Homo sapiens: one gene and its partner. The protein of the gene in region 1 interacts with the protein of each later gene in a pairwise test. Each region holds a gene or a part of one and is shown on either strand. Other genes may lie near its edges.

Region 1 (3,500 bases):
TCCACCTGGAATCTCCCTGCTTTTATCCCACCAACTTGACTTGGCTAACTGCTAAGTGCAAATTGTATGACTTTTTTGTGGGGTGGGGTTTAAATCTGACTCCCTCATTAGATTGAAAGCTCCATGGGGACAAGGACCATGTCTATCTTGCCACTGCTGAATTCCCAATATTTAGCATAGAACCTGGCACATAGTAGCCCATGAGTCAAAGTTTGCTGAACAAACATGTTAGTGAATGCAAATTATATTATATTGTAGGTGGAGCTCAATATATGTATTTATTGTATGAATATATGGGTTTATGGTGAACCAGAACTGTTTCTCTAAAGTCCAGAGGCATGCTGGGAAATATTGAACAACTGGATCTCTGCAAAATTAAAAGAAAAAAAAAAGCCCTGGTTTGTAGCATTTGCCTATTTCTGTGGTGCAAATACTTCCACCATGGCCAATTTCAAGACACCAACATGATGTTACCTGGCTCACAAAATTCTCAAAAGCTTAACTGGCTCTTGTGAGTTGATATGAGTCAGCTCCAGCACACCACTGAGTTAAGTTCCACCAAAGGAGACATACCCTAGACACCTGGAATGTGTGGGAGTTGAGGAAAGGTGGAGGTACCGTGTGCTCTGTTCTGAGCCCCAAACTGCACAAGGGGAAACTGTGAGTGTCTTTGAAGCACTGTTTCAAGAATTATAAGAATTCGGCCAGGCGTGGTGGCTCATGTCTGTAATCCCAGCACTTTGGGAGGCTGAGGCAGGCAGATCACCTGAGGTCAGGAGTTTGAGACCAGCCTGGCCAACATGGTGAAACCCCATCTCTACTAAAAATACAAAAATTAGCCCGGTGTGGTGCCACCTGCCTGTAGTCCCAGCTACTCAGGAGGCTGAGTTATGAGAATCGCTTGAACCTGGGAGGCAGAGGTTGCAGTGAGCTGAGATTGCACCACTGCACTCCAGTCTGGGCAACAGAGTGAGACTCTCTCAAAAAAAAAACAAAAAAAAAGAATGATAAGAATTCCGGTCATGGAAGTGAGGGAGATGAGGGTCATGTCCCAGGTAAAACCCCTACAAAACAGAGGCCTTCTGTGATCCTGGGATAGGTGTCTTAACCTCTCTGAGCCTCAATGTTCACATCCGTCAAAATGAGATGTGGACACCATCAAGGGATATGGTTAGACTTCCATGAGAGGGAATAAAAATGGATAAACAAAACGGACCTTGCCTAGGACCAGTCATAAAGGAATGACCAGACTTGTCAGAAAGGAATGACTTGACATCGAGTTTCCAGACATATGGTAAGTGCTCAGTAAGCATGAGCTCTCCCTTTGCCCCTCCTTCCAGCCTCCTTCTAGAGGTAGTAACATCAATGGAGTGCTGATCCTTTGCCAAGCTGGGTGTGCACATTCAGCTGACTTATCACATCCATGGGTCAATTGGATGGCTAACCACAATAGGCACTGGGCTGGCTTCCTCTTCAATCTTGACAGTGCAACAACCATGCTTGTTTCAGGATTTTGAGACAGAGCAGAACTCACATCCACAGTCTATTCACTCGTTCACCCTCAGTCCTAGGGCTAACCCGCAGTTTCACCACCAAGTAGGCATGTGGCCATGGGCCTTTCCTTATTTCCTTATACCTCTCTGAGCCTCAGTTCCCTCCTGTGCAAAATGAGGATAATTGTCATCTCTTTTTGTAAGGTTATTGTGAGGCTAAAACAGGACAGTGTATTTAAAGAGCCTAATGTGGTGTCTGGCCTCCGGAAGTGTGCTGTAAGTGGTAGCTGCTATTATTCCCATTATATCCTCCATGAAAAAGGACAAGCTGCCCCTTCATACCATGTACTCCTTGCAAATCACCCCCAGAAAGAGCTTTTTTTTTTTTCTCCGCATAATGTCTTTTTCTTCCAAAATGAATTTTGAGTTTGGTCCAAGCTCTTCTATTATATGAAGATGTTTCATTCCTTTAAGGACCTGCTGCAGAGGCCATAGAGGAGAAGCTAGCTGACAAGCAGCACGTTCGACAAGCAGCATGTTCTCTAAGTTCAGCCTCCTAGATAAATCCTGGTGGGGGTGTATGGGAAGAAACCTTGATTTTTCCTCTAAGAAAACCCTCACAGAGAGACCACTTCAGTGCCAAGTAATTTACTGTAATCACCTGGCAGATGGAGGACTGTTAGGGAAGTCCCATGATCTAACTTGCCTCCTGATGTGATTTGGCTGTGCCCCCACCCAAATGTCATCTTGAATTGTAGCTTCCTTAATTCCCATGTGTTGTGGGAGGGATCTGGTGGGAGGTAATTGAATCATTGGGGCAGGTCTTTCCCATACTGTTCTTGTGATAGTGAACAAGTCTCCTGAGATCTGATGGTTTTATAAAGGGGGTTCCCCTGCACAAACCCTCCTGCCTGCCGCCATGTAAGACGTGACTTTGCTCCTCATTCACCTTCAGCCAGGATTGTGAGGCCTCCCCAGCCATGTGGAACTGTGAGTCCATTAAACCTCTTTCCTTTATAAATTACCCAGTCTCAGGTGTGTCTTTTTCTTTTTCTTTTCTTTTCTTCTTCTTCTTCTTTTTTTTTTTTTTTTTTTTGAGACGGCGTTTCACTCTTGTAGCCCAGGCTGGAGTGCAATGGCGCGATCTCGGCTCACTGCAACCTCCGCCTCCTGGATTTAAGCAATTCTTCTGCCTCAGTCTCCCAAGTAGCTGGGATTACAGATGCCCACCATCACACCCGGCTAATTTTTGTATTTTTAGTAGAGATGGGGTTTCACCACGTTGGCCAGGCTGATCTCAAACTCCTGACCTCAGGTGATCTGCCTGCCTCGGCCTCCCAAAGTGCTGGGATTACAGGGTGGGCCATTACGCCCAGCCAGGTATGTCTTTATTAGCAGCATGAAAACAGACTAACACACCTCCTTAATTCTGCTTAGCTACCTTGGGAGAGTGGAGTTGAGCAGACATATCAGGTCCTTAAACAGGTACATCCCAATAACCTCCACTCTTTCAGCCACAGAGAGAAGTTTTCAATGAAACAGGTTCCTTGTCAGCAAAATCCACTTTGCTGAAGTGTTTCATCTTCCAGGTTAGCTCTGGGGAAGTCGTGGGTTTGTTTCTTGGGCTAGGGACTGGAATTATTTTTGGTGGAAAGGAGGTCTTCAAATTCAGCACAGTGTAGATTAAAGAGCTATGGTCTAGAATGATCCAGTCTAGCTGTATCAGCCAGGAACTTTTTGGTGGCAAGTGACAGAAACTCAAATCTTACTGGCTTCAATAAAAAAAGAAATCACTGGTTCATGTAACTGAAAAGCTCATGTCTGCTGGAATCCACTGTTAAACTCAATTTCTTTCCTCTTCTTTTTGGGCTTTGCTTTCTTCTGTTTGGGTTCTGCTTTCAGCTAAATCCTCTCCCACCTTAGCAACCCTAAAAAGGGAGACGTTCTGTTTCTCATGAATTCCACCAAACTTGCAGCTAGGTTTTCCACTGGACCACATTGGGTGAC
Region 2 (3,500 bases), on another chromosome or scaffold:
AGATGATAGAGAGAATCATGAAGGCCTGCACTGTCTTGAGGGCATCTGTAGACACAGGACGAGGAGAACAAGGGCATGAGGTCACTCCAGGGGCTGAACATTCCCTGACCACACCTATTGTCAGCACTGGGTCAATATCTTTATATATACCTTCACTGGCATATGACAGGCTGTCACTGCAGCTAATGTTGGTACAGTTTTTCCAAAGACCTACTGATGCATCTACCGTATTGGAAACCAACCAGACCTGAAACCAGAAGGAAAGAAAATGTTAATTGAAAGCTGGCCCTCTGATTTAAAAATAAAATAACAAATCAGCTTGCATCGGGATCAGATTTTAATAAAGACATTCTATTTAGCTATAACTATGGCTATGCAGCTTATCTGTGGGCGGAAATAAGGTCCGATTAAAACTGAAGTTCACAAAGTTGCCAAGAGAAGAGACACAGAAGAATGTGAAACCCAGAAAGAAATCACCTAGCCCTCTTTGGGCTCCACATTCTTCACGACTTAACAAAAATGGAAGTAACTCAACCACAGTGGTTTAAAATTCTAAGGTTCTGAGAAACAGAAGTCCAGGATGAGGAAACTGGCTTAGGTATGTGCAGTTCATATACTCTAACAAGATTGTTTCATTTAAGTCCCTGGTTAACCAGGAAAAAAGTGAAATGTCCAACTGGAAACAATTAAGAAACATAAGACCTACTGGGAAAATAACAATGAATCTAGTGGTTAATAAGCCACTTTCATCTAAACAGAAGGATCAAACTTGACTGTCACAACATGCAAAGTAATTTGATAGTAAAATACTACAGCAAGTGCTTTCCTGTAGGGGCTACTAAAAGCTGAAGGGTGACCTGAATGGATTCCCCCAGACTGATCATGGTGCCGCCATCCCTTCCTGCCTGGCCCAAGAAAAGGAATTATCCTTCTGGAAGAGAAAACAAGTGCAGTGTCCTGTCTACACACACACAAATGCACACACTGGAAAGGTGGGGCCGGGAACATGCATCACCTACGCCAATCCCTGCTCTTCATTCAATAAACAACTGTGTGCCTAGCCTTATATTAGGGGCTGGTAATTCACAGATACGCAGCGCTTTGGCGCTCATTAATACACTTTGAAGAAGCTTATCAGATTTATCTGGATAGATATAGGAGTTGACATATAGAATGGCTAAATTACAAAACAAGGAGGTCACGTGGGCGGGGGTTGTCTTATCACAGTTATTCTTAATTAGCCTTGCTTATGATCACACCCACTAATGTTTGCAAAGCTCTTCTATCTGAACTTTAAAACTCACTTATACTTTAACTGTGATAGGGACCTAAACAGATTCTGAAACCATGGTTTGCCTGCCTAGTGATTGGTGGCCTTGGTTTTTAGGTCCAAGGAGCTGGCTTTTTTCTGAGAAAAGCACAAGTAAAAGCAAATTGGGCGCTGTAAGCCACCACTAGAGGTCAGAGTAGCCCAGGGTTCAGAGAGAAAAGACACTACCTCCATTTTTTTTTTCTCGTTTTGTCTGAGTTAGTTAATTCAGTGGCACTGGGTTAATCTTGCAAAACTCCACTTTCACATGCTACTCTTTGCTCAAAATTTGAATTTGTCAGTCTGGCATCCTCTTCTTCCCATCTATCCTTCTAATCAAGCTTCTCAGAAGGAGGGGAAGTTCGGCTCCAGCCACATAGGTGTGTGTCCTCCTTATCCTCTGACCAAAGCTTGTCCTTCCTACATATGCTCCTTTGCTAGCACTCCCACCTGAATGCATCCCTATGATCCTTCCACCTTCCCTCTTTCACTAAGAGAAACCTCAGCCATCTACCACTCCTCCAGGTTCACCTCAAGCTCCACTCACCCCTGCTGCTGGGAAGGCTCTTCTAGAGACCGAAGAAGCTGCACTAGATCCTCCAGCCCTTAACCACCTACAGCTCTGGCAGGATTACTCCTGTGGACATTCACTTTTATCCTCCTGTTATTTAATTGTTTGAAGGGCAAGCGTGTGTTTATTTTGTTTTCCCACAACTGAGCTGTAAGTTCATGAAGGGCAAGGGCTGTGGCTTAAACTTCTTTTGTGCACTTGATGTAAATATTCGAATGATTTCTCAATGAATGAATGAACAAAAGAACATTACTCACATTGGCAATGGTGCTAACAAATAGCATAATAACAGTAGCGATGTGGACCACAAAGATACCAGCCAGCAATACCAACATGTTGGCTCTTTTTTTTTTGGTAACTTGTGAGCAAAGAGAGTTCTGAAAAGAAAAAGAAAGGGACAAAAACGGTTACTGTCAGATTCAATAAGACGACTCAGCTTTCCCACACGTGTGGGCTATCTGCTAACATGAGGAAGAGCTGCACTAAAAACCATCACAATCTAATCATAAATTCCTGAAAACACCCCTGTAACCTAGTTCTGATTTGCCTAAGTGCCTATTCATCCAGTTATACATACCTACATGGAAACAGAATTTGGTTTCTTCTTGGGTATTTACATATTCATTTCTCTAATACATTCTATTTCAAAAAAGGAACAAGAACATTTTATGATAACTGTTCGTATTTTATTTTGTTTGTGTTTTAGAGGTTAAAAATAGGACTTTGATTTTCAAAGAAGTAGGCCTTTATAATTTCCAGGTCTCTGAACAATGTCATATAAATGTCCATTTTCCACTAGGAAAATGTCCATGCTTTCATCAAATTGCTCACCCAGCACTTTTAATAGAAGTAAATGCCTTCTGAAGAATAGCAGCTATTACTCAATGCCCATATACTGAATAGGCTACTAATATGATCCTGGGCGAGATATAAAATGTGAGAGGCACAATTCTATTATTATAATGCTGTTTGGTTTTCAATAATTATAACAACCTAATTACAGTTTAATGGTCTGGTCACCCTGTGACTGAGCATTTCAGACTAGTATTACTACACCTGAGCCTTTGGGCTCTGTGTGCCTCATGGCAGGAAGCCTGCCATTGGTCTGGGCAGAGAGTCATATTTTCCACAGCTCAATGTGATGGTTCTGGGGGCTTTAAAAGTAATGCAACTTGAGATAGCACCAAATGTGCCTTCTCCTTGTACATGACATTTACACAAATTCCAATCCTTCAGGACTCAATACAGAAGACAGGCAAATGCATAAATCACAGGGTGGGAGGATTGGGAACTAATATCGATTAAGAATGTGCATGGATAAACAAAAGCTTTCAGCCATAATCACAGCAGAGAAGGGAGCCCATTGATCATAAAGCCTAGGAAATAAAGGAAGTGTGAAGGATACACATGGGGGAGGCTATTCTGATTTATGTCAGCTACAGAAGGAGAGCTTTGTCATGCCTAAGACTGTCACAAAGCAGTGCAGGCTCAGAGGGACATCAAAAGGAAAGGGCTTGAGGTTATTCACACCCTAGACAGAATGGATGTGTGGATGCCCCAACCAAGGGAGGAGATGGCCAGGCGCATCCTGCAATTGTTCCACTGCCCTCTCTCACTCCA

Evidence for each region. The genes of interacting proteins can lie anywhere in the genome.
Region 2: the proteins of TMEM114 (region 1) and EMP1 interact in binary tests that used the Homo sapiens proteins (3 or more experiments, as listed by UniProt).

Annotation. Positions count from the first base shown.
Region 1 is NC_000016.10:8,584,012-8,587,511, reverse strand, and holds part of TMEM114 (transmembrane protein 114), read left to right. Parts: intron 1-3,500.
Region 2 is NC_000012.12:13,210,226-13,213,725, reverse strand, and holds part of EMP1 (epithelial membrane protein 1), read right to left. Parts: intron 2,258-3,500; 5' UTR 2,216-2,257; coding exon 2,138-2,215; intron 248-2,137; coding exon 151-247; intron 46-150; coding exon 1-45.